Regions from separate parts of the Homo sapiens genome. Here region 1 is linked to region 2. The links come from fine-mapping of genetic effects on gene expression. A gene starts in region 2. The other region holds a variant in brackets. All regions are shown on one strand. Distances are between the middles of the regions.

The links. PIP is the estimated chance that this variant, and not a neighbour inherited with it, causes the effect.
Region 1: its variant is the best candidate, but not a certain one, in a credible set for the expression of CD79B in esophagus muscle (GTEx, PIP 0.76).

What each region holds. Positions count from the first base shown.
Region 1 is chr17:63,902,240-63,907,608 of GRCh38, reverse strand. No RefSeq gene overlaps it. Among named protein-coding and RNA genes, the nearest start is that of CSHL1, 6.3 kb to the left of the region's middle. The variant A/T (reference allele first, on the strand shown) is at 2,248.
Region 2 is chr17:63,929,879-63,935,247 of GRCh38, reverse strand. CD79B (CD79b molecule) reads left to right here and starts at 2,917. Exons shown (of 6, transcript NM_000626.4): 1 at 2,917-3,053; 2 at 3,863-3,913; 3 at 4,863-5,174; 4 at 5,360-5,369. The coding sequence starts at 2,987. RefSeq lists enhancers at 1,262-1,666, 1,408-1,667, 63-1,667, 2,241-2,290, 2,301-2,410 and 2 more and a silencer at 3,998-4,067.

The DNA of each region.
Region 1 (5,369 bases), 28 kb after region 2:
CTGCAGGGGGAGCCACACGCCAGAGACTGTCCACCCAGCTCCCCTCGGGTATAGGAGAATCCACTCAACCACTGCTGGTTGAGAATTAGAAAGATACTACCTGACTTTGCACATTTTAGAATATAAAAAGACCTTAAAGACCATCTGCTTTAAACTCTTTGATTTACCTACTGTTAGTCTACCTTTCAGCTCATCAACTTGGTGTGGACGGCAATTTCCGCTGCAAATTTGAGATGCCTAGGGTGTTTTCTAAACGATGCATTCGTGAGCCCTCACTCCCTGAGATTCTGATATAATTAGCCTGGAATGTGGTCCAGGCAAGAGTAGTTTGAAAACTTTCCCAGGTGATTCTATCATGTAAACAAGGTTGAGAACCACTGTGTTAGGGACCGCAAAGATGAGACCCATGTGTTCACAGCTGTTGTATTGGTGGAACAGGGAAAACGGAGAAAAAGGAGACGAGAGGCCTGGGCCAGTTGTGGTGCCACCTGCTCCTAATTCCAACCAGTCATCTAAAAAGTGTTTATCGTGAGCCAGTCACAGAAAGACAAATACTCTCTGATTCCAGTTAGATGAGGTACTCAGAGCAGTCAAATTCGTAGAGACAAAAAGTAGGATGGTGGCTGCCAGTGGCTGTGGGGAGGGATGGAATAGGGAGCCATTTAACGAGCACAGGGTTTCAGCTGTGCAAGATGAAAAGGGTTCTGGAGATGGTTGGTGGTGAGGGTTGCATGACGATGTCAATGTACTTGACGTGACCGAACTGTACACGTAAAATGGTTAAGATGGAAATGTTTATATCTTCTCACAACTAAAAATTGTTAATAGTTTCTTTTGTTTTTGTTTTTGTTTTTGAGACAGAGGCTGGAGTGCAGTGGTGGGATCTTGGCTCACTGCAACCTCCGCCTCCTCCCGGGTTCAAGTGATTCTCATGCCTCAGCCTCCTGAGTAGCTGGGATTATAAGTGTGCACCACCACACAGGGCAGATTTTTGTATTTTTGGTAAAGACAGGGTTTCGCCATGTTGGCCAGGCTGGTCTCAAACTCCTGGCCTCAGGTGATCCACCCTCCTTGGCCTCCCAAAGTGATAGGATTACAGGCGGGAGCCACCAGGCCTGGCCCTTAATGGTATTTTCTAATGAAAACTCTTCCTGAAGATAAGATTATCGAGACTCGCACAGGGAAGAGTTCAGCAGGCAGAGCTCCAGTCATCCTTGACCCCTGGCATAATGTTTTACTGACTCTGTCATTTTTTTGAATTTACCCTAACCTAAAATGACCACTTCTGAATATCTTCCATGAGCATTGTTGAAATACACATGGTTGGTTTTGTCCCTTTATACACAGTTGAGAGCAGAACTGACCCCTTCCTTTTTCTTCTGAATTGTAGGGTCTGGGCTTCTCAGCCAAGACAAGCTGACACTTTGCCTGGATGCTTCTTTAATTCAGAAGGCCCTGGAGTGCTGAGGCACACAATGAGTACCTCTGGGATTAGGGTCACCAACTCGTCCTGGTTTGCAGGAGACTTTCTCAATGTCAACACTGAAAGTCCCACGTTCCTTCCAGGAATCCCTCAGCTCAATGCAAACTCAGCTCACAGGACTGGTCACCCTATTAGTAGTCCTAAATCTTAGGGCACCAAACTGGGGGGAAAGTAGGGGAAGGAGCAAGAAAAAGACTAGAAAAACCGGAAAGCTGTGCACAGTGTATATGACCTTTGATGGCCCTCATGGTTATCATGGATTTCTGATTCTTGCTTTGAGTTTACTGTGATTATAATGATGTGCTTAATTACCACTAGAATTATCAGTGTAATAATAAAAACCAACAAATGTGAACACATGTCTCCAGCACCATGCTAGTTTATTACAAGTATTATGTCATTTCTTTCTAACTATAATTCTCTAAGGTAAATACTATTATTAATCCTATGGTAAGAAGTCCCACTAACGATGTAACTTATGCTTTCTCAGGTCTAGAGAGAAAGACACCAGAATGTCACCCTGACCATCCTTGAGAGCATAAATGGCCAGGCACTGTGGCTCACGCCAGTAATCTCAGCACTTTGGAGGGCTGAGGCGGGAGGAGGTCACAAGTTCGAGATAAGCCTGGCCAACATGGTGGCACCCCGTCTCTTACTAAAAAATACAAAAATTAGCCAGGTGTGGTGGTGCACACCTGTATTCCCAGCTACGAAGGCATGAGAATCGCTTGAGCCCGGGAGGCAGTGTTGGGCTGGGCCCATCA[A/T]GCCACTGCACTCCAGCTGGGTGGCTGAGGAAGATTCTCTCTCAAAAATAATAAGAAAGAAGATAAAATTTTGGAGTATTAAAGGCCACTCTTCCTCTGGAGATAATCAAGGTAGCTGCAATTTAAGTATGAGCTGGTTGCTTTAATGTTCAGAAAGAATATGATCAAAACCATTTAGAGGGTGGGGCCTCCTCCTATAGACAATGAAGGCAACTACCCTTAGAAGCTCTATTATACTGGAAAAGAGATATGAGATCCTTCTTGCTTTAAGAATCAATGAAGCCGGGCGTGGTGACTCACTCCTGTAATCCCAGCACTTTGGGAGGCCGAGGTGGGCAGATCACCTGAGGTCAGGAGTTTGAGACCAGCCTGGCCAACATGACGAAATCCTGTTTCTACTAATAACACAAAAATTAGCCAGGTGTGGTGGTGCACACCTGTAATCCCAGCTACTCCAGAGGCTGAGGTAGGAAAATTGCTTGAAGCCAGGAGGCAGAAGTTGCAGTGAGCCGAGGTCGTGCCACTGCATTCCAGCCTGGGAGACAGAGCGAGACTCCGTCTCCAAAAAAAAAAAAAGAATCAATGAGAAAGGCCTGCCTGATCTCTGGTTGTGTGGATCCTTCGGGAAGGAAAGTGAACAGAGGTTCCAAGTCTACAAGGGAAAAAGCCCAGCCTACTCTGAAGAGCTTTGCGGGACGGCTCATCCAAACTACTGAGCTCTAAGAACTGGAAAGCTGGAAACCCCAGCAAGAGGACACCTGCAGAGCTGGACCAGGCCCCGAAGAAGCAGATCATCCTCCCTCAGAGATCTACAGCAGGTGGGAACCCAGATCTGCAGACCCGCTTGGTTTGAGGGTACTGTGTGGGACCATCTGTCAACACTGACACCCTGTAGCAGTGAGAAGCAAAGGCAGCAGCCGGCTGAGCCTCCAGGCTCGCCCTGCTGGAACTAGAAAGTCCAAGTGGCCCCCTTCTTCCTCCCTTTTTGGTTTTGTTTGCTTTTGTTTTTGTTTTGTTCAAGATGGGGTCTCGCTTTGTTGCCCAGGCTGGAATGCAATGGCACGATCTCGGATCACTGCAACTTCTGCCTCCCACAGTCAAGCGATTCTCCTGCCTCAGCCTCCCCAGTAGCTGGGATTACAGGTGCACACCACCATGCCTGGCTCATTTTCCCCTTCCTTGTTGGATTCGCTGTGCTTCAAGGCACTGAGGCCATGAGGCAGGGTTTGCAGATACAGGATATCTACAGCCCTGATGCGACTGATCCTGACACCAAAATGGCTGTGGATCCCTGCATGGTGTGGCTGTATACTCCTGTCTCTTAAACCTGCTTCTTAACTTACTTCCCCAAATGCTCAATTCAGGGAAGGTGGATGATTTATATTAGACTCACATGATGAAGGAGCAGTAGCTCCACCTAGTGGAAACATTGAGGTTGAAAAGGTCATGTTCGGGGATGATGCTATTTTATAAAGTCAAGATATTTCGTGTCCCTCCAGGAAGCCTTCCTTGATTCGAGTTATGCTTTCTCTTAACAATCTGTTTTCCCAGTCATAGGAGTTCATGCACAAATGTAATCTCCTACTTGTTTGTCTTGCTTTCCTAATAAATTTGTGGAAGCCAGGAACAATGTTTTGTTCACCACTGTATCCCCACTGCCTTGTATGTGGTGAAACCAAAGGGTTACTTTTACACTTAATCTATAGCACCAGACTCAGGGGAGGTCTGGGAAGAATGGGAAAACGTTTTCCCTCTGCTGTCTGATGCCATGGTTTTTTCTAGCTGGTATCTGCAATTTGGAAAGCTATGGACCTCTCTCTATCTGGAAGTCTGAACTTTAGCTTTTCTTTTTGCTTGTGTTTCCTTTGTTTTGCTTTTGAGACAGGGTCTGGCTATGTCACCCAGGCTGGAGTGCAGTGCATGATCTCAACTCGCTGCAACCCTCCACCTCCCGCGCCCAAGTGATCCTCCCACCTCAGACTCTCAAGTAGCTGGGACTACAGGCACGTGCCACTATACCTGGCTAAGTTTTGTGTTTTTTGTAGAAATGGGGTTTGCCATGTTGCCCAGGCTATTCGCAAACTCTGGGGCTCAAGTGATTCGCCCGCCTCAGCCTCCCAAAGTGCTGGGATTACACGCTGAGCCACCGCCCCGGCCTGAATTTCAGTTTTGAAAGCAGTTTACATAGGCTGCCACCCTGAGCTAATGCACCCCCTGCCCCGGGCTGGTTGTTTATGCTATCAACACGGTATTTTTTCCTTAGAAATTGTACTTAAAGTTATAAAATGCAGCCGGGAGCGGTGGCTCATACCTGTAATCCCAGCACTTTAGAAGGCCGAAGTGGGTGGATCACGAGATCAGGACTTCAAGACCAGCCTGGCCAAGATGGTGAAACCCTGTCTCTACTAAAAATACAAAAAATTAGCTGGGCATGGTGATGGGCACCTGTAATCCCAGCTACTTGGGAGGCTGAGGCAGAGAAATCCTTGAACCCAGGAGGTAGAGGTGGAAGTGAGCCAAAATCACGCCATTGCACTCCAGCCTGGGCAATAGAGCGAGACTGCATCTGAAAAAAAAAAAAAGTGATAAAATGCAACCATTTGACATAACAAGAGCTTTCAGCAATGACACAGAAGGGAAGGGAACTGCATTTGGACATCATAAAACCACTTTTATTTTTACCATAGCAACATTCCAGTGAACATTTCTTGACTGACTTGGGAGAAAAGATCTGGTTTTGTGATTCCTCACGCCTTCTCCGAGGGTGAATATACTCTTTCCGAAGGACAGGGAAGGAGGCTGAACCATAAAATCATATGAACATTTTCACAAGAGGATTCCTCTTGAAGCTTCAAGGAAATTGTTTACAGTCAGAAAAAAATATGCACTTCTTGATGAAAACAGAGAGTAAACATTGCAACTCTAACCTAGACACCTATATGGGTAAAAAAAAGAAAACTGGCAAATGCGAACTCACAGTTGATCACTCTATGAAAAGGAATTCAGAGATGTTTGGAGCTCTTAACCTAAGAGGCCAATTTCATGGAAGAACTCTACCTTCTACTTCAGAGACAGAACACTGGGCTAGATACGATGCTTGTCTGGCCCGAAGTGGAATTTCT
Region 2 (5,369 bases):
GGTGGCAGAGGTTGCCGTGAATGGAGATTGCACCACTGCACTCCAGCCTGGACAACAGAGCAAGATCTTGTCTCAGAAAAACCCCAGAAAACAACAACAAAAAAACGCGCTATTGGGCTTATTTCTATTTTACGAAAATGAGGAACCTTGGTCACTGAGAGGTTAAGAATGGGTGTTGCCTCATGGGTGCTGTTGGCATGTGGGGCAGGGAACTCTGCTTTGCCAGCCAATGCCCCTCCCGCCCCAGGCACCCACCGGTCATTGAGACCAGCGCGATTGCCCTGATGCATGTGCAGACGCTCCCTCCGTTGGGGCAGAGCCACCCTTAGTAGAGAACCACTGGTAACCTGGGGAGGTTTCCTGGCTGCTACACTGCTGGGTCAGGACTCAAACCCACGTCCTTCTTAGCAGGTCTTTTCCCAGTCACAGCAGCCCAGCAGATCCAGGACACCTGGGCTGGAGAAGGAGGCAGGGGTCTGAGCTCTTCTTTCCCTGAGGTTCTTCCCCCTCCCGGCATCCTAGGGTGGCTGGGGGTCGCTGCCTTCTTGCTTCCCCACCCCCTGAGCCCCTTGTCCCTTCGCCCGACCCTGGCCCCCATTCCTTATTTTGATGTTGCCTTCCTGGAAAGGGAGGTGTCGTCAGAAGTCAGAATGTGAAGCCCCGGGCAGCCGAGGGCAGAGGCAGGGGTAGGCTTGTGAGGCCTCCTGTTCTGGGAAGAAAAGGGCATCATGAGCCCAAAATGGGGCTCAGGGCTGTTGTCACCAGTGAGGGAACAGCACGGCTCAAAATGTGACAAATAACCCTGCAGGCGGTGGGGCCCCCGCTGCCTCCGCCCCTCCTGAAAACAGATCCCTGCCCGGCATGAATGGGAATGAAGCCCAAAGGCCACATCTGCATCCTTGTCCACGGGATGTGTGTGTCTTCCCTCCCTGGAGTGGGAGCTGCTTCTCACTTGTTTTTTTAAATTTTTTATTTCAATATTTTCTGGGGTACAGGTAGTTTTTTTGGTTACCTGGATAAGTTCTTTAGTGGTGATTTCTGAGATTTTAGCGCACCTGTCACCTGAGGATGGGTGCCAACTGCCCCCCACCAACCTCCGTGCCCCCTACAGTCCGCTGAGCCCTAGGACCAGCTCCAGAGTAGGCCCCACACCACAGGGTCCAGGCAACACACCTGTGTGAGCATGCACATACACACACACACACACCCCCCACAAACACGTGTGCCCCAAGCCTTTCCCAGTTATACCCCCCAACTTTGGGGAGACACTAGCCCCAAAGTTAATGAAGGACTCTGTCGTTAGGGGCTCAGGAAGAGTATTTCCTAAACCATGAGACTCCCAGATTTTGCCCCACTCCCCCCGGGTCAGTCTCTCTCCAGCCACCCTCACCAGCATGCGGGCCCATGGGCCTCAAGCTGACCTCAGGTGATGTTTATATTTCTGAGCTGTTTATTCCATGAACTGAACATCTGACAGCTTTTCAGAGAAATGTTTTTTCATTTGGAACATCTGGAAACAAGAAAGAACATCTGGGGCTGCCCGGAACGGGCTGTTCCTCGGATGAAACCTTAACCCTCCTGCCCCTGACTTCCGTGGCTCAGGTCCTGGCCTGCACCCCTTGAGAGTGGCCCCCACCTTATCAGGTCCGAGGCCTAGGCCAAGATCTAAAGAGGGACCACCCAGACCCTCTGCCTTCCAACCATGGCATGGGAGGTGGTTCTGCTTCTCCCTAAATCCAGACAGACCTGCCCCAGCACAGACTGGAAAACGGAGGGTTGTGAGGAGAGTGAGAGGTGGACAGAGGGCACCGACGATTTAGCATCTCTTCCTCTCCTGGGGGTCGAGGATGAGAGACAAAAAAGAAGCTGCCAGGAAACATAAAATTCAGAGGGCTCAGCTGCAGGGCTGAGGTCTGCAAGCATGCTGTGTACACTTGTGCATGTTGTGCCCTGCACAAGGGCATCTCTGAAGGGGCTGCATTGGACCCAGGGGCAGGGGCGCAAAGGTGAGTTTATATCAGTTCCTGAGCACTGTGGCTCCATCCAGCACTCTGAGGACAGGCAGGATACAGCTGGAGGACCTGAGGGCTCCCCCACACCAGCTCCTGTTCCCTGCCCAAGACCCCCTGGACCTGCAGACAACAATTCAACGCACTCAGAGTCCCACAGTTAAGAACTCCCTGAAGAAGCCCCCAGTGGCTGCGTGGTGGATTTTCGCAAAGCTGTCTCCACCTACATCCACCCTGTTTGGCAGCCCCTACATACTCTTTCACAGCATGAGGAAGGGAGGCCTCTCACCAAGACCTGGACTGAATCTTCTCCCAGTGGCTGCCACACTTGACCTGCTCTTGCTCCAGAACCTCTGTGGCTCCCATCCTCCACAGGGTCAACTTCCAACATGGCTGCCTGCACTCCAGCCAAGAGGCTCTGCTCTGGGCCCCTCCAGATGCCTGACCTGGGTCTGTGGCTGCCCTGTCCTTCTTCAGTGCTCCTCTTCCCGCTGGGTGAGGAATAGTTCAGGACAGAGGAGCTAAGTTCAGGTTCATTCATAGGACAGGTGCCTATTTCGCTCACGGCCCAGGAATAGAGACTTGCCGGGCTCGGCCCTTCGGGGAGTTGGCAGACGGCAGAGGGGAGGCTGGCTGGCCCAGGGGATGACCACCGGTGGGGTAAGCACAGACAGAGGGGAGCACAGGCTTCCCCCAGAAGACTGAGAGGCCCCCCAGAGGCATCCACAGAGGACCCCAGCTGTGCTGCCCAAGCTGGGCGACCGCCAAACCTTAGCGGCCCAGCTGACAAAAGCCTGCCCTCCCCCAGGGTCCCCGGAGAGCTGGTGCCTCCCCTGGGTCCCAATTTGCATGGCAGGAAGGGGCCTGGTGAGGAAGAGGCGGGGAGGGGACAGGCTGCAGCCGGTGCAGTTACACGTTTTCCTCCAAGGAGCCTCGGACGTTGTCACGGGTTTGGGGTCGGGGACAGAGCGGTGACCATGGCCAGGCTGGCGTTGTCTCCTGTGCCCAGCCACTGGATGGTGGCGTTGCTGCTGCTGCTCTCAGGTACAGAACCCACGACGAGGCCTGTGGGGTTTGCTCTCATCTCCAGCTGTCTGGGCCCTGCGGCTCTGCCTCCTGCTTGCTCCACCCTCCTCCTCTGTCTCTCACTCTTTACCGCCTGTCTCCCTCTCATGGCCCTGGGGCCTGGGTCTGTGGGTGTCAGCTGCACGTGGTGATGGGCTCAGGAGCCTGTGGCCCCAGTTCCTCTCCTGCCTGGAGAGCATCAGGCTGAGCTGGGCATGAGGAGCAAACCAGAGTTAGCAACCAGGACCGTGGAAGAACTAGGCTCAGGAGGAAGAGAGGCTGAGGGCGGTGCCTGGGGGTCGGGAGGGGAGAGGCTGTCCCAACCGGACCCTGGAAGATGCAAGATCCAAATGTGGTCCCCTCCTCTGGGAGGTGAAAGATCCTCCGGGCTGTGACTTTCTTCCTGTCTCTCTTTAAAAAAAAAAAAAAAAAGAGAGACAGGGTGTCCCTATGTTGCCCAGGCTGGTCTCAAACTCCTGGACCCAAGCGATCCTCCTGTCTTGGCCTCTCAAAATACTGAGATTTCCCTGTCCCTCCTGTCTCATTCAGATGCCTGCTCAAAGCCACCATGAGGGTCAAAGGCAGAAAGGGGGCTGGGGGCAGGGCTTCCGGTACCCCCACCCCATATCTGTCTCCCAAGTACTGGGGGCAGGGAGGACCGAGGGGTCTTGAAGCTGCTGTCATGGAAGGAGGAAGTAGCTCCGGGAACATAGAGGGCATGCAGGGGTGGGGCAGCCCAGGCCAGAGGAGGCCCTGACTGGCCCCGCCCACTTCCTCCCACCCAGCAGCTGAGCCAGTACCAGCAGCCAGATCGGAGGACCGGTACCGGAATCCCAAAGGTCAGTAGCCTCGCCTGCCGCTTCTGAGGGCAAGTTGTGTGCGACTATGTCCTGTGTCCGACTATGGTCCCTGTCCTGGGGGCGGTCCGCCTTCCCACCCTTGCCTGATCTCCCCATCCAGGATTCCCATCCCCAGGCCTCCTTAGGATCTCCTCTGAGCCCCACCCCCAGCCCACTGTCATCCTCATCAGACACATGCCCTCCAGCCTTGGCCACTGAAGGGCTGGGCTAAACTCTGGGTCATAGCAAGGGAGCCTGGGGGTTCCTCTAGGACTCAGGCCCGGGCCTGTCTAGCTGGGAATCTGGCTGAGTCTCGGGTGAGCCCTCCAGTGCAGGGTCACTATGTGAGGGGCTCAGGGATTCCCGGGCAGTGCTCACTAAGAACAAGGCAGTCGAAGCTGGAAAGAGGGTTCTGGAACAAGAAGTGGACCCAGTCCCTGCAGGAGGGAAGAGGGGGATGATAGAGGGAAGTCATGCAGGGAGGGGGTCGACTGAGGAAGGTCTCAGTTGACAGACTAGGAATTTGGCCTTTATCCCTGGAGGAACGGGGGAGACTGAGGATTTCAAGCCTGTGCAGGGCAGCCCAGTGAAAGGAGGGGCCAGGCCTGTGGGCCTCCAGGTCCTGGGGGTGTGGCCTGGGTCAGGCTGTTGTAATGGGCATAGGAAGGAATGGCAAGGTCCCAGGGCTCTTCCAAAGGAAAATCGAAGGGGAGGTGGGGCAGTCGGGAAGAGGTGGAGTCTGAGAGCTTGGCCGTGGCTTCTCATGTGGCTCAGCCTCTCACGTGGCTCTGCTTCCCAACTCCAACCTCAGCCTCCTGCCTGTCCCACACCCTGAGAAGCAAGGACTAAGCCCAGGGAGTCTGTGCCAGCCAGGGCAGGGGCCTGCTGCTGGGGCTGGCACTCAGGAAGATGCCAAGCGGAATGCTGAGCCTGGCCTTGGCACCCACAGGTAGTGCTTGTTCGCGGATCTGGCAGAGCCCACGTTTCATAGCCAGGAAACGGGGCTTCACGGTGAAAATGCACTGCTACATGAACAGCGCCTCCGGCAATGTGAGCTGGCTCTGGAAGCAGGAGATGGACGAGAATCCCCAGCAGCTGAAGCTGGAAAAGGGCCGCATGGAAGAGTCCCAGAACGAATCTCTCGCCACCCTCACCATCCAAGGCATCCGGTTTGAGGACAATGGCATCTACTTCTGTCAGCAGAAGTGCAACAACACCTCGGAGGTCTACCAGGGCTGCGGCACAGAGCTGCGAGTCATGGGTGTGTGCCAGGTGGCTGGGACGCTCCTGTAGCTGTCCGCCCCACCCTAGCCCGGCCTGCCTCTTGTGGTGATGGTCATGGCCCTAGAGCACTCAGGAGAGCCACTGGGACCTGAGGGAGCTGCCCTTGTAGGCCTAAAAGGTGGACTGTGGCCCAGGCTCACAACCCCACCCCTGTCCCCGCAGGATTCAGCAC